3 linked regions of the Homo sapiens genome follow. The gene in region 3 interacts genetically with the main gene of each other region. Each region holds a gene or a part of one and is shown on either strand. Other genes may lie near its edges.

The links.
Region 1: of HES1 (region 3) and LMO3, changing one suppresses a phenotype caused by changing the other (phenotypic suppression), as found in Homo sapiens cells (one study listed by BioGRID).
Region 2: of HES1 (region 3) and NHLH2, changing one suppresses a phenotype caused by changing the other (phenotypic suppression), as found in Homo sapiens cells (one study listed by BioGRID).

What each region holds. Positions count from the first base shown.
Region 1 is NC_000012.12:16,603,128-16,610,666, reverse strand, and holds the start of LMO3 (LIM domain only protein 3), read left to right. Parts: upstream 1-4,504; 5' UTR 4,505-4,601; intron 4,602-4,696; exon of another isoform or gene 4,697-4,853; coding exon of another isoform or gene 4,854-4,899; intron 4,900-5,287; exon of another isoform or gene 5,288-5,777; coding exon of another isoform or gene 5,778-5,802; intron 5,803-7,539.
Region 2 is NC_000001.11:115,838,127-115,845,474, forward strand, and holds the start of NHLH2 (helix-loop-helix protein 2), read right to left. Parts: upstream 3,001-7,348; 5' UTR 2,822-3,000; intron 2,578-2,821; exon of another isoform or gene 2,419-2,577; 5' UTR 2,090-2,418; intron 255-2,089; 5' UTR 247-254; coding exon 1-246. UniProt on the Homo sapiens protein: Transcription factor which binds the E box motif 5'-CA[TC][AG]TG-3'. Involved in regulating energy expenditure, body mass, voluntary physical activity, mating behavior and reproductive longevity, acting through the hypothalamic-pituitary-gonadal axis.
Region 3 is NC_000003.12:194,132,073-194,139,229, forward strand, and holds HES1 (transcription factor HES-1), read left to right. Parts: upstream 1-4,075; 5' UTR 4,076-4,308; coding exon 4,309-4,416; intron 4,417-4,544; coding exon 4,545-4,640; intron 4,641-4,888; coding exon 4,889-4,976; intron 4,977-5,610; coding exon 5,611-6,161; 3' UTR 6,162-6,660; downstream 6,661-7,157. UniProt on the Homo sapiens protein: Transcriptional repressor of genes that require a bHLH protein for their transcription. May act as a negative regulator of myogenesis by inhibiting the functions of MYOD1 and ASH1.

The sequences.
Region 1 (7,539 bases), on a different chromosome or scaffold from region 3:
TTTTGTTTCTGAGGGTTAAGGGGGTGGGGTGGGGGTGGTAGTGTGGAGAGGAAAGGAGAAGAGAGGCTGGGGGAGAAAACACAGCTCTGTCAATGGACTGAATGCACCATTAAAACTGGCGTCACTACAAAGGTTAGAGCAGATCTAACTGTCAATACAGTGAGTAGAGTGGAGTCCGGTAAGGGGGAGCTTTGGTGAGAGATACTTTGATATTTTGGAATGTTAGAAGGGTGAATGTGAAAAATTGGAGGTTGGGGATCTAATTACCCAACCATAATTGGGGGCTAGGGAATAAGTTGCAGTCCTCTCAACTCACCGCAGATCAATTATGTTAAGAGAACATCTGTAAGTAGAACTTAATGAGGTCCATTAGAGCAACATGTACAGCCTCCTCTAACAGTACTTGTCAGCTTCTTGGATGAGCTGAAGGAAGCTGCTAACTAGGGACCTGGCGAGGTGTTTAAATACTGGAGGAGCAGCTCTGGCCCACTCAGGTTTTGTATGCAGTTCGGGAAGAAAGTGAGAAAGGGAGAGGCACACAAGAAAGACAGGAAGCCTGAAGCAGAGGTTTCTTTCATTTGTGTTGCTGAATTTCGAAGAGTGATGGTGGGAGTGTGTGTGGTGGGGGCAGTATCAACCTCATCCTTCCCTTGACCGAGACCTTTCACTGCTCCTGGACTTTCAGGGTGTGCTATCCTTTGCCTCCCCCCAACAACCTGTCTGCTGCCCTAAAAAAAAAATTAAAAAAAAAAAAGACGGCAACCTAACCGGAGCATCTCTGGGACGCCACAGAAATCGTAACTGAACACCCGCACACAAAAGTAATCTGTGAGGTGTGTTTTAAAGAAAGAAACAGCTGAAAACTTGAAGACGTGTTTAGAAATATACATATATACACACTATTTTCTTGTGGGAGATCTCCTTTGGGCAAAGGTAAGTAGTATATATCTAATCACCCCCTCAGCACCCTCCTCCACCCCATTTTGTCATTCCCCTCCCCTTTTCCCCTCATCAAGGTATCACAATATAAGACCCCTGAAGAAGACAGTCTGCCTTTTTTTTTCCTTTAATAAGTGTTGGGATGGGGGCTGGATGAAGTAAATTCTCTCATCAAACGTCTGATGATGAGTTGCAGAAAGAGGGCACAGGCAAAAGGTAATCGGACCAAAAAGATCTGGCTCTTTATAGCAATCCTTTCGCAAAGATTTCCAAAGGATCTGTAATTAAACTGGGTAGTTTACTCTCAGGAAATGAAGAAACTGCTTGCCTGGCTGGATCCAACCTTTAGCTTGGCTGAGTAAACAAAAGCACAAATTCTTCTTTCACTTTTTCCCTCGCGGGAGGGGTGAGACTTTGGGGTTGGGGGGAGCCAGGAAAACAGGGAGTTTGCTGAGGGTTAATGGTGTTTTTCGCAAAGTGTCAGCAGAAGATGATTAAATTCCACCTCTTGTTCACCAGATCACTTTGTGTGCACTTGTATATTTCATTGTCGGCAACCGCTGATGATCACATCTGTGCAGTACATTAAGTGGCAAGCCTCTTCATCTGCACGGGGTTTTTCTGATGATTTTTTCTGTGAATAATTCATATGATTATGAAGAGAAAAACTGCTATTTTCTATCTCTCTCCCTTCTGTAGCACAGATTAAAAAAAATCTTGCTGTAAATTGCGTGATTGGGGAGATAGCCTGCTTTCAAATAATTTAATTCATGACAAAACCTAATTACTGTCAGGTAATACCCTGTCAGCTTTAATGCATTTCATCAGTCATAATGAAAAGAAGAGCATTTTATGACCCATCTAATTATCATTACATTTTAGGGGAAAATGAATGGCATGGAGCTGAATGTTAACTATTCCATTTTATTCCTTTACACATGTGGTTTGGCATATTATTCGCTAAGTTCCTCTCTCTCTCTCTGTCTCTCTCTCTCCTCTGTCTCTCCTTCTCTCTCTCTCTCTCCTCCTTGCTTGGCAGTATTACTTGCTTATAAGTGTGGGGGAAATGGTAAAATTGAGAGGAAAAGGAAGATTGGGGAAAAAGGAAGAGGATGGGATGCACTTAGAGATCTGGGTGTTTGTCCCTTAAGAAAAAGGTGACAAAGTGGTTAATGTCTTTGCAGGTTGGTGTTGATATCAGGAATCTTACTGCCACAGTCCAAATAGAGTACTAATTACCGCGAATGATGTCACCGTAGGCAGAGGAATAATCCCATCATTTAATTAGTTGAATGATTTAAACAAAGATTTGCATAGATGCACTAATCAGTTGCCATGAATTACAGAGCAGCAGTTGCCAGCGAGGGGTAACAGATCATACAGTTGGAGGGAAAAAAAATCTCATCTCCTTGAACATAATTAATTTAATTGTCCTCATTAGCTGTACCATTTGTTTTGATTTTATTTCTCCCTTTCCCCACACATACTTCTCCCTCCCTCCCTCCCTCTTTTCTTCTTCTCAGTGCATTGGCTGAGACAGAGCGCACGAGACACACACACATGCATGCACACATATGCACACACACACACTCACACATACTGGGGTGTTTTCAGAGTGGCTGTAGCAGAGAGGTGGGGTAGAACAGTGGGGAGCTGTGCGGATGGGTGAAGTGCATGTATGCCTGCCTAGACGGGCCAGAAAAGCCAAACTTAAGAAATCTGCCTATGTACAGAACAAGTCAACTAAGGGGTTCTCATTAATCTACCGTCTGTGAATATCGTTATTTTTCAGGTTAGTTCTGAGTTTTGTTGCCTTTTAAAGGGAGAGGAAAGCAAACCACAGGCTATTTTATTATGAGCCTTCAAAAGGGAGGGGGTAAAAACTAGTTATCAATGTTGTGCCTTTATTCTTTATGAAGAAAAACAAAATTTAGCTTAAATACTCATGGGGGGGGTGCTTTGATTTTTTTTTTAAAACTAGAGCTAGATTAAAACTGATGGTGAAGAGAAGAAAAAAAGTTTTTTGTAGTTCAACAATTGAATATTTCTTGGCTCTTAAACATTTCAGTGAGTGTCTTTCAAATGTGGACCATTTTTAAGCTTGACCTCTGACAAAGCTTTGTAAAATCTGGTGAGGGTACTTTAAGAGCAGCCCAAACAGAGGGTGACTTTGAAGTTTGAAAACTTAGAAAAATAATAAGGTATTTTAAAGCTACCAGTGGCCTTTATAGATGCCAAGGAAAGTTAAGAGGAGAGGAGGTTAGAGAGAATGGGACCTATTAGAAAAAAAAAAAAAATCTGTCAAGGCCTTAAAACAAGCCTGTGAAGACAAAGCAGTAATGGTGCAGAAACTATGGTTCTTTGACCAAGTTAGTCCTGAAAACATGTTTCTCAGTGCTGTTGGCTGTTTTTCATTGGAGCGTGTGAGTTTTAAATAGTAAGGAATTCAAGTAATTGCAGGAAGTGTGTTTCGGGGTGGTGGTGGTGGGGGTCAGCATTAGTGAATGGAGAACAAGTTCACAGTTTGGGTCTTGGGCCATTAGAGGAAGGGAGGAAGGGAGGAAGGAGAGTGTGTGTGTGATCCCCTGAACCAGGCTTGTGTGGCGGACTTGCGGAGCAGCGACTTCAGAGAGTTCATGAATGGAAGTCACAGACAGACCAGCGACTGCAGCCACCTCCAGGCATTTCTTAAAGGGGAGGGTTGTGTGCTTTTTCCAGGGTATTCTGGTAGCAGTTTGATTCTCTTGCTTTTATTTTAATTTCCATAATTGGTAGCTTCAGAAATGGCTTTGGAAGGCAATTTGCTTTAAATGTAGCCACCTATTCCAAAATGCCCTGGTTATTTTAGGAACCCTACCCTTTTCCTCCGGAGCTCTCTCGCAGGAGTTCTTCTTTTGGACTGGTCCAGGAGGTAGGGTCCTTCCTCAGTCGACTCCTGCAGAGGTCACATTTTGTGTGCGGGTTTGTCCCCAGCGTTTGTGAGTAGCATATGCATGTGGTTGTGCTGACTGCACTCGCAGGCTTGTAAATTTTCACCCTGGGAAATTAGCAACAAAGCCCGATCTGTCTCGTGGCTGCTTTGCACTTTCCGAGGGCGGCTGTACTTGACTGAGCTGCAGAACAGGCACACGAGAGCGAGCGAGGGAGCCAGCGAGAGAGGGAGGGAGAGAAGGAAAGAAGAGGGGAGGGGTGGGGGCGAGAGGTAAATAGTCTTAAATCGGAAGGGAGCTGCTTCTCTGTGGTCTTGACAAGCGCTGCCTGGGCTCCGCCGGCTCACTAATAACTGAGTGACCTTTTCTTTGGCTGTATTATGTCTGGCTGGGAAGGGATTGCATTTTGCAGCTGAGAGCCGGAGCTTCCTTCAGCTCGGCTCCTCGCACGCTGCTGGGGTAAGTTGTCTTGAACCAGGACGGAGAGAGACAGCCTCGGACTGCAGTTGCCTAAAAGGAGGACACCTGTGGCTCAGATGCGGTCAACACCATTGCTTGGCGTATCCTTGAGGACCTCATTATTTTAAACTTAAAAAAAAATAGACATTCCCTCCCCCGTCTTTTTTTTTTTTTTCAAACAATGCTTCTTTTTGACCTTTCCCAAGGAGAAGCGCTACAAAGCAGCCACTGTGCTTACTGAACGGCCTCCCCCTGTATCGCTTAATTGAGAAGGTAAGTGCAGCAACTGTGTACACACGCGTCGGCTTATTTGTGGTGTGTGTGTCTGCGGGTGCGCGCGTGCGTGTGCGGATGTGGGTATTTTTTTCTTCCCCAACCTCTGCTAATGAGGCATAAACTGGAGCTGCAACCCAGCTCCGCACTGCAACTTTCACTCGGGCTGCAGCTCTACTGAGACGGTTTTGTTTAAATCATGTGAGGCTTCATTATTTTTATGATGAGACATGAAATAGATGCAGGCGGAAGATGTTGATGGAAGGAGGGAGAGCGGCTGCGGCGCGGAACGTCTCAAGTACGACTCGAGTGGATAATAGTCAAAGTTCACCATGAACTGCAGTATTTCCACACCCCTGACTCCCGGGGAGAGAGGGGCAGGGAGAGTTTGGAATTAGGAAGTGTTTGCTCCCAGCCCATAGGAAAAGAATTCAGTCCTGGGTGGGTTTCCGGACCCCTCCCCCTTACTTGCTGGAATTCATGAACCCCCACTTCTTAAAGAGTTGATATTACAATCTTTTGGTCCTTGTTGACGCTTCTGCCTCTCTCCACGCAGCCATAATAACAAAATGTTGTTCCTTTGCCGTGGAAAAGTGGCTGTGTTTGGGCATGGGGGCGGGGGGGGGGGGCAGGCGGGTAGGGGCAGAAGTGGCTAGAAGAGGGAAGGTCCCTGGACCAAGGTGCCTATATCCTAATAGATTGAGATTCAAACTGATGCAGCACATTTTTTACGGGGACTACTCAGATTGCTGTTATGAAATACAAGTCAGATTTATGATCTTTTTCATATTGAACATGATATGCTATGCTAACGCTGCATGTGACAGTTTAATCAAATCCATTTGTTACCAGGAAGCTAAAAGGGGCCGCTGGGATTTTAGGATTACGGGCAGAGTTAGGGAAGCATGTGGCTTTGTCATTCGCCATCATTTTGCACACTGCGAGGGGCTCCGTGTGTGCGCCCTGTCTTGTCTGGCCGTCCTCATCCCTTCCCCCACCCCCTGCCGCCACTCCGACCCGCTCCCAAAGTGGCTTCACAATAGTCGGTCCTCGGCGGTGTAGGCTGCGCACCAGGTCCACACTTAAGCGAAATCAAGGAGACCCCCTTCTACTTCTACCTTTGGGTTTGGTGCTCAATGCGAAGCTGCTGCAACTCAGACACGCCTAAGTCAACTCATGCAGAAAAAGGAGAAAAGTTTTGGTAAGGTTACAGTCTATCATAGATGCACTTTGCTGGCGCTCTGCACTCCTGGCCGCTCAAAAGCCTTTCTGCTTTTCCGCTGCTTTTGTGTCTTTCTGAAAGAACCGAAATATTATTGTTGTAACTGCTTTGAAAGACTGCTGCTTAAACCAATTAATCTTGCTAGATGCAACAAATACTGCTACATTCTTTGCAAACCATCCCTGTGTGGCTGCAAAGACACAACCACAAAAGGCTGGAGCATAAACTCCGCAAGGGATTCTTTGTTAGAGTGTATGTATGTTTCTTATTTTTTTTTTTTATTTTGCATGTGAGCTGCATCAAAATTGAACTCAGTCTTGCAAATCTCTTGTTGGCCTTTGCCAAGCACTAGCACTTTGCTGCCATGGTAACTGTAATTAAACTGATAAGAGTGGAAAAATGTCAGTATCTCTGAGCCTTGCAGCTGCATTGGAGAAAAAGGGAATCAAATTGGTTCCCAGCTCCATTGCTCAAAAAGGGGAGGGGGGTGAAGGATAGGGAAGGGGGCTGGGAGTTGAAGGGGCAGAACAGAGTTAAGCAGCTCCAGTGCCTGAGATCTGGGGACATCTATTTGCATTGTTGTCCCTTAGGGGGCTGCAGCCTGTAGGGATGCTCTGGGCCAGTGAACAGAGAGAAACAAGCTTTTAGGCCCAATCCAGTTTTCCAACCTGGGTTGGGGGCTGGGAAGAGGATGAAGATGGGCAGGAGGAGAGAAAATCTTTTGTCTGGTGCCTCTTGGCAATCGAATGGCCATGTTGGCCAAATTCTTTTAATCTGTGTCAATGCTCCCAGCTGCAGAACCTGCATTCCCATTTTAGCATCTTTCTGAAGCACCTCATCTCTTCCAACCCCCTTTATGTATTCCCTCTTCCTCTTCCCTCTCCCAAATTGTTCTCTGTGAATTTTCCGACGGACAAAATGTTTTCTATTCACTCTGTGTAGTTAGTCCAAAAATGTAAGACTGTGTCTAAGTGCTGCAAATCTTTCATTATTATTATTTTTTTTAAACCCCTGTGTGTTGTGGAGTTGTGGTTACTTTGTTGTGTTAACTACTGAAGCTGAGACTGTGCGGATGAATGGTACAGAACAAGGGAACATAATGGAGGCAATCAACCGTTAGGCCGCTTCACAATGCAATCCAGGCAATTAAAAGCTCACCAGAGTTTAAATGAAATGGTTCTACTTATTTCTGCACACCACACTGCACAGGCTATTATTTATGTCTTTTTTTTAATTATGATTTCCCTTAAACTGTCAAATAACTCAGAATGGCAGGGTCTCAGAGGCAATAAGAATTTCCCTCAGAACAATTTACATGCCAATCTAAAACTAGTTATGAGTTCTGATGTGCTATGAGCAACTTGTGAAATGTTTCTTAGCTACAAACACGTAACTCTACCCAGACATGTTCTTCTGGTGGAAGAGGGGAGACTGCTGACTGCTTTATGCCTTTTAAGTACACGGTAACATGGTGACTACAAAATAGTTCTTTTGCTACAATTGTTAACTTGCATGGAATTCAAGAGATTCCATTTTCAAGAGAATTGCCATGATGTTCTTCAAATAAGGTACCAGGATGGAGTGTGAAATATCAAACTCCTTTTATGCCCAAGGCCAAACAGAATGTAAGAGTTTCAAATATTAATTGGCCTCTGAGTGCTAAATTAAAATGTCAACACAACAAAAACATTTTGTGAAGACAAGTAGGGTAGTGTT
Region 2 (7,348 bases), on a different chromosome or scaffold from region 3:
GTGGGCCGAGCGGTACTTGGCCGTGGCGCGCCGGCGGCGGCGCTTCTCCTCGCGGCTCAGCTGCTGCGGGTGCGGGTAGAGCGCGGCTCGGCTGCCGCCCTTGCCGTCGCCCTCGGCCTCCTCCACCGGCTCCAGGTCCGACACGCTGCCGAGCACCTTGGTGTCCGTGCCGCCCAGGGACTCCGGATCCGAGTGCGCCGAGCTGGGATGGTCCGAATCTGCTGCTTGGTCCGGACTCAGCATCATTTTGGAGGCTGAGGAGGGGTCGGAAAATTAATCAGTAAAAGGAATCAGGGTATTTTGCTGGAAGGATGGCTGCCGAGGCCTACCACGCCGGTCCTCCCAGCGGACGCGCGGCCCGGGCCCCCTCCCCACAGCAGGCCGGCGCGCGACGCGGGAGGGCGCCGATAGGATCTGGCCCGAGGGCGCGAGCCCTGCGCCTCGCCCTGGCGCGGGAGCCGGCGGGGACGCGGTTGACCCAGGCCGCATACTAGACTGGACACCTCGACTTGCAGACGGCCACAGCGGGCCTGTGGCCCTGGGCCTGGGGAACAACCGCAGGCCTGTGGGGTCGCGACTGGGTTTTTGTGCCTCTTCCGGCCAAATGCCAACCGCGCTATTCCTCCTCCCTCCCTTCGTCCCCTTCCCGGACAAACGAGCGATTTCGAACAACGAATACATCTGGGTTTTCACGGGGGCGGGGAGACGCGGGGTGCACTTCTCGCCCCGAGGGCCTCCGGCGAAGCAACCCGGCAGCCGCGGCGCCCGAGGGCCTGGCGCTGGTCTGGGGCTGCGCCGGGGGCGCCTGGCTCTGGGGTGCGGCCGGTCAGGAATCCCCATCCTGGAGCGCAGGCGGAGAGCCAGTGGCTGGGGGCGGGAAGGCTTCTTGGACCCCTCGCGCTTCTCCGAAATCGTAAAGAAATGACTAAACAAACGTGGGGGAGCCTTTAAAAAGAAAATTGACTCCGATGCCCTCGCAGGCTCCCGGAGCACCATCTGTCACGCAGACAGCCACACACATAGGGGACCTAGGGACACGGCGACGTGGGATCAGACAATGCGCCCGGCAGTCTGGCGACCACCTTGCGGGAAAATGCCGGCAGCCGGGCCGCTGAGGGAGGAGAGGATGCAGAGGGAAGGGAAGAGAAGGGAAGGGCCCGGGGCGGGGCAGGCGGGGACTAGCGGGTGCAGCGCGTGTTGTCCCGGCGGGAGCTGCATCTCTGCCGGCAAAGTTCGGGCGCTCCCGGAACCGGAGCTCGGCAGGCTGCAGCTGTCCCCGGGTGGCCTGGCCAAGTCCGGGCATGTCGGTGCTTAGCCTTCCTCTAACTTAACTGTGCCCTCTTGGAAACGCCACCTGGCCAGGCTTCTCTGGGGCGCCTGGAGCACTGGCCCGGACTGTGCGCCTTCTGGGAGGGGGCCGCTCAGAACCGCTGGGCTTCCGGGTAATTCGGGCTTCGAGAAAGGGCCCGGCAGGAGGAGAAAGGCCCCTGCAGGGGCTGCACGCACCGCCCCTGGGCGTCGGGAGTGAGGACCAGGCTGAGAACTCGGGGCCCCGGCGTGGGCAGCCTCCACGACGCTCGGCACGGGAGAAATCCGCGTCGGCGACGTATAGGAGCGTTTGCTTCTAGAGAAACAAAAGCAAGGGGATGGGTGATCGGTTCCCAGCACCGCACTTGCAGAGGAGCGAATTGGGCCAAAACAGCTTTAATTTCCCTGCGAGGAAATCAGGTCCTCTACGGCAAAATAAAAACAAATGCTCCCAGAGAGCTGCATGTGACTCCCTACGGGCTTTTCTCGGGTACGTTTATGAGTAGAACAACTTGCACCTACACAGTCAGCTTGAAAGGGCAGAAATAAATAGACGAGTAATGGAAAATCACAATAAGCCACTAAATAGTTGTAGTTCTGGTAAAAAGTTCCTGGGTTGCCCTCAAAGCACATTAAATTCTCCTCTAGATCTTTAAAAATATTCATAAATAGTATGCCGTGTATGCGTTTTATCTCTTTATGGAATGAACTGCATCTATAGATACAGTATGAATAATCTAACTTATTTCAAGCTGAAAAAAATTATTTAAAGGAGTCTTACCTTGCAAAAGCCTTTTTGATAATCTGTTCTCCAATCTTTAGAGTTAAAATTCCAAGGAATAGCGAGGGGAGATTCCGGAAAATATTAAAAGCAGCAAATATTTATTACATTCAAAAATGAAAAAGCAGCTGTCATCTCGCTGGTGTCCGCAGCGAGGGACAATAATATCTCAGGATGTAGACGATATGAATGATTGTTCACTTAGTTGATAGATTTTTTAAAAAACGCTTTTTCCTTTTAATTGTTCTCAAACATTGCAAGAAATTCGTTGATGATTTTTTTAAACGATGTGTTGAAAAGTCTCGTGCCTTTTTTCCTCTTCTAGGTCTCTAAAAATAACAAAAGAGATGCAGAGATAAACACAATCACATCAAAGGGCTGATTCCTCCACTTTCTAATAGCGGAATAATCAATAAGAAAGATGGTTAAGATAAGATTCCGCTCCTATCGTATGCCTTTCTTTTCCTTAATACGGCTGAGCAGAAACTGGGAAGTGCAGGACAGAGATGTGATCTTGCTCAGAAGTGATTTTTTTTTTTTTTTTGAGATAAGGCTTTGTTCAGCTGATATCTCCCCAGTTCCCAGGAACACAATACTGTAACTAGGAGCTAAGGTTGCCTCTTCCTCTTCCCTCACTTACTTGTATGTTGTATAAATAGACACCTATTTTCCAGTTTCAAAGTCTTTCAAGGTTTGGCTATATCCCCCGTCCCCAGCCCCTCTTCTCTTTACCTTGTAGCAAAATATATATAGTCAGTGGCTTGGAGATGCTTGGAGAAAGGTTGGTGAAAAGTGAACGTCTCCTGGAGTAACAGTGACAAGGAAGCAGAGAAAGACGGGAAGAGGGTGGGAGAGCCAGAGCAAAGAGGCAGAGATGCGTGTGTGGCTTCTGGGCTCTCCTGGTACCAATTGATTCAGCCTGGAGATGGTGGAAGAGATAAAGGCTTAGGAAGGGGGATGGAATTTTTTTCCCCTAAATTGATATTTAATGGGAAATCCTATTGGACAGAAACCTGGACATGAGTCACTTAATTGGACTTGACATCTGTCACAGTGTGGGAGTTTTCACAGCCCAAATATTTTAGCAGATCAGATTCCCACTGAATCTGTGCCATAAAATATAACAATTGAAAAGCAGTTCATGATAGAAATCTTAGCCTCTAAACAGTATCTAGCCGTAGTCAGGCTATTTCTCTTTTCCAGATTATTGATGAAATATTTAAGTACAAATAAACAATATATTGACTATCAAAGAATTCCCCTGGCATATTACAAAGCCACCACTTTCCCTTAATATTTAGAAAAATATTTGTGTCCAGAACATGGAAATATATACTATATAAGATGCTGCAATAAAGTATTTAGACATGCAACAGCCAACATTTATTAGAGATCATTTACATTTTAAAAGATACTTCAGTAAGGTTTGATTAAGCATATTAACATTTTTGAGAAATGATCTGCTATGAGACTAACTTATCAATAGATGGTAAGAACCTTTCAATAGATTAAGCCATTGGTGGAACTAGAAAGAGAATCCACATATTCACGGACCACGACATGAGATAATTCTACTTTTCTGTATGTTTGTTTTTCTCTCCACCCACTCATTCATTCAAGCTGAAATATGACATGCTACATGTGTTGATTATTGCACTTCATTCTTGCCCATCTTAACATGCTAATATATTGTACTGCGTGGCAGTGCTTGTGCCAAGATGTAAACACAAATTACCAGTGTGTCCCAGTACATAATGCCTTTGCCTTACATGATCCCATGGCCCTGAATTTGTATACCTTATAATAAAAAATAAAATCTAGTTCAATTATTTTGCCACTTTATGAAGATACTCATAGTTAATATCAATAACATATTATTTGTGATTATTTTAGCTTGTTTTGATCATACAAGCTTAAAGAAATAAAAGAGCATTACAGCCTTACTCCCACCCCGCCAGTTCCTAGGGGAACATTTGTGGAGAGAGGAGTCCTCACTTGTCTTCCTTAATTTTGCCCTAAAAGCAGATTTTATCACCAGGGGAGGCACATTGAGCAGCCCACCCCTGGGAGTGACCCTCCGGGTTTTTCATGGCTTCCACAAGTACTATTTGCCTTTGCCCACATTTTTGCTCCTTTGAGAGATTCCTGGACCACAATGGGGCAGGGGTCGGGGAAAGGAGGGAGTGCCTCCAACAAATAAGGGCACCAACACTCCCCAGCCTTGCTTCTGCCTAACCCCAGCACAGAGGTATATTTTAGATATCCCCAGAACGTTAAAGTGAAGATGGAAGCCGGTCCCATACAGGTGGCAATGGAAATGGGTGAGTGGATAAACACCCCAAGGTGGTGACAATGAAGGGAGAAGGGAGGTTTTCTCACTCTAGTTAGGAACAGCCAATGCTAAGCATTCACACACAACCAGAAGTGTGCACACAGATGCACACCCACAGACACCTGTACCTCCTCCCCCTTCATCATACAAGCTGGCTGGCTCTATTAGACCACCACACATCCATACTGATGGATTGAAAAAAACTGGTGGGTCTAATCACCATAGCTCTAGAGTGGGCAGCTGCTACAGTGGGAAAGGACCAGCATCTCTGGTTCCCCTGGTGTTGGGGAGTCATGACAGGGTGTGCCTATCAGGGCAGGTCCAATTCTGCTATGGTGTGTGTGATACCAGACAAATTCCCTTTTATGTTCAGGCTTACTCATTCTATACCAGCAGCCAGCATACACAAAAATTAATGCTTACAGAAGTAAGCCTGTATAAACAGGTACACACTCAGATCCATACTTAGTGATGCCTAGCCACACTGTCATAGACACAGACATGGATTCACATTCACACACACACATTCTTTCTTCCATCAAAGCCTCCCCCTCCCCCACCCCTTTGCCTTTTCTAAGACCTCCCTGGCACAGATGGCCCCTCCTTCTGTGCTCCATAAGCACTCCTTTCATGTCTCCCTTAGAGACTACATATTGTGTACCGTGATTCTTGGTTCTTGGTTACCACACTGGTCTCTCTTCCTAGGCTATGATGCTTCCAGGGGAGGTCTGTAGCTTATATCCCCAGCACTAATGTCTGAGCTTGACACATTATAGGTACTCAGTTCATTTATGATGTGACTCTATGTACAGAGGTACCCCAGATATTTGTAACATAGAAACGCTTCCACTAAAGGACACCCATGGTTCAGTTCTATCAATTTTCTTTCCTGTAAAAATGAGAATAATAATATTGCACTTCTCATTTCACAGGCTCGCTATGAGACCCAATGTATTTGAAAATATTTGATGAAATAGTAAGCACCATACAAATTATGATATTATAGACTATAAGAGTAATATTAAATAATATTATTAAATGAATGGGGAGGTGATAAGTAGTGACTTAAAAAGTCCGGCTTTGTGGCTCTGTCATATGCTAGCTGTGTGAATTTAGTTGTAAGTTACTTAACCTTTTTGGACCTTAGTTTTCTAATCTGTAAAATGAGAATAATCAAAGCATGTTATGTAATGTTATGTCATGTTTTTTTCTGAAGGTGAACAAGATAATATATGTAAAGTGCTTAAACTAATGCCTAGAACTCATGTTCAGTAAGTGTTGGCTATCATTATTATTATTATTCAGTATAAATACATATTGAGGAACAGATATATATTGACATAGAAAAATAAACATATCCAGATATACTCACCCGTGTGTGTGTGTGTGTGTGTGTGTGTGTGTGTGTGTGTGTGTGTGTGTCTGTCCATAGCTCTGGTGGCCAAACTACAATGAGCATTTTCCATGTGTCAGACCTAGGTATAGTGACTTTGCTCATATTAACTTATTTAACCTTCACCACAAACCTGTGAGGTAGGTAGGTACTGTTGTCCCGATTTTGTGTATAAGAAAACTAGGACATGGAAAAGATGGTAATCTACTCAAGGTCACATAGCTAATAAATTATGGAGCTAAGATAGAGATTCAGGTGGTCTAAATTCAGAAACTGCACTCTCAGACACAAAGTACTACTGTTTCTGTCATTGTATCCTACACAGATATACTCACACAGAACTATTCACCAAAATGCATATGGCAAGGGAGAAATACACGTACACACAAAACTTAGATAAATGGCCACCTTTGCATTCAGGGGTGGTTAGTGAGTGATATGGTTTGGCTGTGTCCCCACCCAAATCTCAACTGGAATTGTACTTGCCATAATTCCCGGGTAGGAGGTAATTGAATGCTATTCTCATGAAAAGAGTAAGTTATCATGAGATCTGATGGTTTTATAGGGAGCTTACCCCTTTGCTCAGCTCTCATTCTTCTCTCTCCTGCTGCCTTGTAAAGAAGGACATGTTTGCTTCCCCTTCCATCATGATTATAAGTTTCCTGAGGCCTCCTTAGCCCTGAGGAACTGTGAGTCAATTAAACATTTTTCCTTTATAAATTACCCAGTCTCAGGTATGTTCTTATATCAGCATGAGAATGGACTAACACAGTGTCAGTGTAGTTTAAATACTTACTGCACATCTAGTGCTTTGCCAGATACTGTTGGACTACAAAGGCTTTGTAATTATTTGTTACTTTTATGAGACATCTGTTTCCAACCTATTTTTTAAAATTTTGTACCCCATAGATAAAAATTTAGGGCATACATACTGAGTATATGTATATTTATATGTATATACCCAATTATAACTACATAATATACTAGTACAGTAGTACATGTATAAGCTTTGTACATGTACTACTGTACTAGTATATTATATAATTATGATATACAAAAGATAAGCAAAGATATGATAAAAATATTTATTTTAAAATTTGTAAGTATTTATCAATAGATACATTTATAAATTTAAATATTCATATTTATTATTAAATATATGATAAACTTAAAAATAATATTAATAAACTAATTAATTTTATTTATTAACAGCACAAAAACCAATTAACAGCATAAGGTTTTATTGATCATGTATAACTTCTGAGAGCAATAAGCTTAATTTTGTTAAACTCATTGTTTAACCCTTTGAGATAATGATTTGATCATCTGGTTTTAAGATCAATTTATTTAGAATCTGTTTTTTGGCTGATATAGCAGAAAGAGATGTAATACAAAAATTCAGATGGTATCACAAAATATGATAAGCATGTGAAGTGATGGATATGTAAATTAGCTTGATTTACTCATTCCACAGTGTAAACATATATCAACACATCACATTGTACATCATAAATGTATACCATTTTTATTTGTC
Region 3 (7,157 bases):
CTTGACCATATTCCATTCCCCATGCACCTTCAGGGCACCAAATAAGAGTGGGGAACAGAATCAGATGAAAAAGTCTCTTAGAATGGGCAGGGAGTGGCATAACCCAGTAGTTAATGAGGGCCGACCAGCAGACAGCAGTCAATGTCATGGCAGAGCCTGGCAGAGCCTAGCAGAGCAGGCACTGGTTCTGAAAGATTTGGGGGGAACCTGGAAAGGGTTAACATGCTTCCCCGGGAAGGGTTTAGTTCCTCAGAAGAATCTGGGTCAGTGTATTTGGGAAGTTTTTAAAAAGTCAGACGCTCAGTAGAAGCATTTTAAGAAGCTTGCAAAGCTTATTGGGGCCATGGCAGAAAGGAGGGTAACTTCATAGGCTCATCACCTTTCACCAAGAGGATTTTCACCACACAGGAAAACCCTACGTTTTCCAAAAGCAACAGACAATTTTCTGTCATCACCACTTTTCCATCTGTTTAAAATAAGAAAGAAAATTCCTTCCCCTTTGGCCCAGGTTGCAGGTCAACAAAGGAGGCATTGTTCATCATTTCTTCAGAACATGACAGGGCACAGCTCACTCTGCAGTGTAAGAAAACATTTTTTAAAAAAAATCTCAGAGTAGCCTTAGGGGCAACAGTGAGTAAACCAAAGCCTTCGATGAGGGAAATGTTTGGTTGCAGACTGGAGGACTATCCTGGAAGGTGGAAATGAGGCTTAGGTTAATACGGTCAGAGCCATGATTCCTTAGTTAGACTCAGGAATTAAATCTGAGTTCCTGAGTTCCTGGTTGGGGGTTGGGAACACTGCATTAAAGGGTAGGCAGGTTTGAGTTGAACTCAGTTCCCAAGAGCGTGCGGTCAATGTCCAGAGGAGCTGGATGTAGACAGATGCCTCTGGGAGTCAGTCTGCACCTGCCTCCTAGGAACCTTCTTCACTGGCTTGAACTGCCTAACTGCCCTTTCTGCCTCCAAGCCCTGCAATCCACTCTCCCACTTTTGCCAGAGCCATCTTTCTAAAGGGAAACCCTGATGCCTCTTCTTTGCTCAAGAATGTTTCATGGCTCTCCACTGTCTAAAGATAAGGTCCAAAGTCCTTCAGCAAGATGTTTAAGGAGCTTGTGACATGGCCTCAAGCTGCCTCTTCCAGTCCCTCACATTCCCTAGGCTCCAGACCATGTTCCCTGAATAAAGTCTTCAAGTTCCAGGATCTTGGCCTTTAATACCATGGGTACCTGCATCCTCTCCAGCCCACGACTAAGCACATTCCCAATGCCCCAATCCTACCTATTTTTCAAGGTACACAGGCCAATCCCTCCAGGAAGTTTTCCAAGGTACCCCAACTTAAAAGTAACTTAATTCTCCTGAAACTCCATAGCATTTTACCTCTATCCAGACATACGTCTCTCTTGAACCTACGACTTCCCAGAGGAATTTACTGGGCCATCCGTAGATGTCAGCTGTACACGTTTATATGTATCTCTAGACTGTTAGCTTCCAGAGAGCAATAACGGTCTTACTCACTGCTGTAAACCCAGGTAGACCAGCAATACTGTTATCCATACAAGTATGGTTTCATATTTTGTTTCTGTCCTCCTGATCTCTCAAGCCACCACCTAACTCAGAAAAGAAAGGAAAAATAAAGGAATGTCCAGTCATCAATCAGAAAATCAGCGTCTGTCTGCCCCCGCAGTTTACTGTCAACTTCTAGCAGGCCGCCACTGTATCTCTCACCGTGGAAATCCCAGGGTTTAACACAGTGTCTGACACTGCGCGTGTGTTCCACAATGAAAGAGAGAGGGGGGCTTGCCCAAGGTCACCCAGAGTCAGGAACCACTGAATCTCATCCGGGACGAGATCTGGCGAAATCATTGACAACGTTATCTCAGTGGGGAGCTGGGAGGCCGGAAGGAATGAAGTGTCTGAGAACCGTGCGCCAGGCCTCCGGGACGCGGGAAGGGCTGAGGGGGCGGGAGGCCACATCAAACAAGACGCTGGGCTCCCGGGCTGCCCGGAGCCGCGAGCCGAGCTCCCAGGCGGCGGGAAGGGCGGAGGGGGGGTGGGGGCACGGGGGCCGGCGACCCGGGCAGGCGGGAGGGAGGCGGAGGAGGCGGCCGGCCGGCCCAGGCAGTGCGCGCCGCCCGCCCGGCTCGGCAAATCCCCCAGGGAGGCCGCCGCCAGAGCCCTGGCGCTCCCGGCCCGGCGCCCGCCACGTGGCACCCGGCGGCGGCGGCGGCGACTCCTCCCGGCGCGCGGCCCGGCCAGCAGGCAGCACGCAGCCGCCCGCGCCGCCCGCCTCCTCCCGGGCGCCCGCCGGCGGCCTCCCGGGCGTAGTGAGGGGGAGCGGCCCGGCCGCCCGGGACCCGGGGAAGGGGCGGGCGGCGCGAAGCCGCTTTAACCGCAGTCGCCGAGCGGAGGCAGGAGGCTGACCCGGCCGCTTCCTAAGTGCGGTCAGGCATCCCGTGACCGCGGCGGGCGCCCAGGGCCCCGCGGGGAGAGGGCGGGGGCGAGGAGCAAACTTGGAGGCCCCCACCTCGCCCCCGGGCTGTTGCGAATGCGGCTTTCGGCCGAGTGAAAACCCCAAGCCCGAAAGTGAGGGTGGGGAGGCGGGGGTTGGAAGAATTCCCCACTCTCCACCCCGGGTGTGCGCTCCCCGCCGGGAAGAGCTGACCTTGGCCTGGGGAGGCGGGGGTGGGGAGAGAGGGTAAGCGCCGGGGCTCGGCTCCCAGCCCGCCGCCCCCTCGGATTCCTGGCCCGGCGGGGCCGGAGGAGGGGGCCCCGGACACACACACACACACACCCCCCACACGCAGCGCGCGCCAATGAGCCCGGGCCAGGCGCAGGGGGCGGGGTTTTCCCAGGCTCGAGCACAGCAGCTGCTATTTACCTTCTTGGCTTCTCCCGGGGACCAGGAACCGGCCCCCGCTCTCCGCCGCCCGTCGCCGCCCCCCGCCTCCCTGCCCCCGGGGCGCGCGCACACACACTCACTCACACACGCACGCACACACACATCCTCCCGGCCCGGCCGCAGCCGCGGCGGCAATAAAACATCCTGGCACGTGCTCCGGCTCCAGGCGCGCCCACGCCGGCCGGCTGATGTCAAACTGCAGCTCGGCTGGTGTAGCTCTTAAAGGGCCCGCGGGCGCCGGGGGCCGAGGCCGCCCGCGGGGCGAGGAGGGAGAGGCTGCTTCCTTGCCCGCCACCTCAACGCGCCGCAGAACCTAAAGCCTACGGATGAAAAGGGAAAGGGTGGTGAAGGAGGGCGCGAGTCCCTGAGTCATTGCCCTCGGAGCCCCCCTTGTTCATTTTTTCATTTGAAATACCGTTTCCTTCCACCCAGTTGGAAATTATTCTGATTGTTTCCTGGGGAAGCCCGGGGTCTAAGGCCCCAAATCCAAACGAGGAATTTCTGAAAGACGGGGTGGGGGTGGGATTCAAGAACTACCTTGCTCCGAAAAACCTGCATTTGTGAGGTAGAAGGCAATTTTTCCTTTTTCTGCATGGAAACAGGAAAATTTTTTTGGCCCTTTTCCTTTACCATCTACTTTCACCCTCCTGAATGTAAAGTCTGAGCGGGAACTTTAGATGTGTCGGTAACTCACATTCTTACACCCGTCCCCCCCTCCCCCCGCCCCCTTTTAACCACTGCTGTTTTTTTCTTTATTGTTTATACCTTTAAAAAAAATATGTTTCAAATGAACTTACTACAGTCAAAGCAGCTCTGTTACATATGAGAGAGGGCATAAAGAGCAAAGACCCTGGCTCCAAAAGAAATAGACAAGATCAAGACCAAAGCGGAAAGAAAAAAAAAATCTCTAAACCAAAGCCCAGAGGGAGAGTAGCAAAGGGTTAAAATCCTTTTGATTGACGTTGTAGCCTCCGGTGCCCTGGGCTCAGGCGCGCGCCATTGGCCGCCAGACCTTGTGCCTGGCGGCCAATGGGGGGGCGCGGTCCACGAGCGGTGCCGCGTGTCTCCTCCTCCCATTGGCTGAAAGTTACTGTGGGAAAGAAAGTTTGGGAAGTTTCACACGAGCCGTTCGCGTGCAGTCCCAGATATATATAGAGGCCGCCAGGGCCTAGGGATCACACAGGATCCGGAGCTGGTGCTGATAACAGCGGAATCCCCCGTCTACCTCTCTCCTTGGTCCTGGAACAGCGCTACTGATCACCAAGTAGCCACAAAATATAATAAACCCTCAGCACTTGCTCAGTAGTTTTGTGAAAGTCTCAAGTAAAAGAGACACAAACAAAAAATTCTTTTTCGTGAAGAACTCCAAAAATAAAATTCTCTAGAGATAAAAAAAAAAAAAAAAGGAAAATGCCAGCTGATATAATGGAGAAAAATTCCTCGTCCCCGGTGGCTGCTACCCCAGCCAGTGTCAACACGACACCGGATAAACCAAAGACAGCATCTGAGCACAGAAAGGTAAGGGCGGTACCTGTATCTCTTTGCAGCCCCTCAAAATTAAGTAGGGGTTGGGGGGCTTCTTTCTGTCTTGAAACCCCGGGATGGCAGATTCCATGGGAACACAGAACTCTTTTTTTTATTTGCAGTCATCAAAGCCTATTATGGAGAAAAGACGAAGAGCAAGAATAAATGAAAGTCTGAGCCAGCTGAAAACACTGATTTTGGATGCTCTGAAGAAAGATGTAAGTGGGGAAATGCTGCTCGCTCTTTTAATTAAAAAACAAACACTTTCTCAGCTACTAAGAGTGAAACCCCCCGCCCTGCGGGGTCTGGCACTCGCTGGTACTGCGTTCTCCCAGGCGGGAGGGCCCGGCCTTATTCGCTGGGGTCCAGAGATAATGCTTGCGCTCCGTGGCCGGGAGGAGGGACCCCCAGCACTCTGAAGCAGCTGACACGGGGCTCACTTTCCTTTCTTGCCTACTCTATGCAGAGCTCGCGGCATTCCAAGCTGGAGAAGGCGGACATTCTGGAAATGACAGTGAAGCACCTCCGGAACCTGCAGCGGGCGCAGATGACGGGTGAGGGCGGCTCGCCGCGTCCCCCTGTGCGGGCGTCCCGCTCGCCTCGCGGTGATTTCTTCCAGACTTCCGCCCGTGGTTGTGAGAGGCATTCAGCTACATTTTACTGCCTTGGCTCACTCTTGCGTTCCCACGGTCTGGGGCTTATTTATAGCCACAACTCCAAGTTGTTACTGTTCCGGAAAGGGAGGGAAAGAGGTTGCAGCCGCGAGGGTGGCGGGCGCCGGGTAGGGGCGAAAGGACTTAGGACTGTGGCGGTTTGGAACTGCGTGGAGCCTGGGGGTCACTGGTTTAGCACTCCTTCCCGTTGCAGAAGGGGAAATGAGGCTTGGATGATGGATTGGGAGGCATTGTCCAAGGTCACATCGCGCGCGGGGGTGGGGGTGACAGATCTGGGGCTGAGATAGGTTTAAATGCAGCTACAGGGAATCGGGAAGGAGTGGCTCGGCTTTTGGCAGCAACGCTAGTGTGGAGAGGTGGCTGGTTTTTTCTAAACCCATCTCACCCTCCCTGCCGGAGGCAGTTTCACGGGCGCATGGTCAGGGAGGCGCGCCACAGGGACCTCCCAGGGCGGAGGCAGTGGCCACGGGGCCAGGGCCGTTCGGTGACCCGTCTGTCTCTTTCTGGCCCGCAGCTGCGCTGAGCACAGACCCAAGTGTGCTGGGGAAGTACCGAGCCGGCTTCAGCGAGTGCATGAACGAGGTGACCCGCTTCCTGTCCACGTGCGAGGGCGTTAATACCGAGGTGCGCACTCGGCTGCTCGGCCACCTGGCCAACTGCATGACCCAGATCAATGCCATGACCTACCCCGGGCAGCCGCACCCCGCCTTGCAGGCGCCGCCACCGCCCCCACCGGGACCCGGCGGCCCCCAGCACGCGCCGTTCGCGCCGCCGCCGCCACTCGTGCCCATCCCCGGGGGCGCGGCGCCCCCTCCCGGCGGCGCCCCCTGCAAGCTGGGCAGCCAGGCTGGAGAGGCGGCTAAGGTGTTTGGAGGCTTCCAGGTGGTACCGGCTCCCGATGGCCAGTTTGCTTTCCTCATTCCCAACGGGGCCTTCGCGCACAGCGGCCCTGTCATCCCCGTCTACACCAGCAACAGCGGCACCTCCGTGGGCCCCAACGCAGTGTCACCTTCCAGCGGCCCCTCGCTTACGGCGGACTCCATGTGGAGGCCGTGGCGGAACTGAGGGGGCTCAGGCCACCCCTCCTCCTAAACTCCCCAACCCACCTCTCTTCCCTCCGGACTCTAAACAGGAACTTGAATACTGGGAGAGAAGAGGACTTTTTTGATTAAGTGGTTACTTTGTGTTTTTTTAATTTCTAAGAAGTTACTTTTTGTAGAGAGAGCTGTATTAAGTGACTGACCATGCACTATATTTGTATATATTTTATATGTTCATATTGGATTGCGCCTTTGTATTATAAAAGCTCAGATGACATTTCGTTTTTTACACGAGATTTCTTTTTTATGTGATGCCAAAGATGTTTGAAAATGCTCTTAAAATATCTTCCTTTGGGGAAGTTTATTTGAGAAAATATAATAAAAGAAAAAAGTAAAGGCTTTTATGTCTTCGAACTGATTCTTCCAGAATATGTAAAAAGGCTTTTGGTGGAATTTGAATTACATGTAATTGGTAATTCAGGAATTGACTCTTTTGTTATTAAAAGAACATTTGTAAAAATCCATCAAACTTTTCACCAATCCTCCATGAACTAAAAAGACTAAATTCCATTTACTTTACAAGCAGCCATCTGGTAAGGCTTCCCTGATAAACTTGTGGTCAGTCTCTTAAAGGATTTCCAAAAAAAATGTTTTTAAGTTGCAGTCGGGTAAGTCTGCAGCCCTTGTTCTTCTAGCTCCTCCTGAGGAAGATTGAACAGGACTAAATTCACGAAGCTAATGGATCCAATCCTATTGCCCATTGCACGTTAAGGGTGGTTCCTGCAGCTCTCCTCTCAGGGTAGCTCACCAGCATCCAAAGCAAAAACACTTCCAACTGCTGCGCCTCCTTCAAGACTTGGGGTCTTCATTAATTAGCCAATCCTTTGGTTCAAATAAGACGTTCCCTAGCACCCAAAAGTTTCCTCTCCGCACCCTCTTAAAGCAAGCTGAAAAGGTCAACAGATTCCTTCTGCCAAGGGACAGTTAGTTAGACTCCCAAGTGGAGGCCGAGCCCAGATGA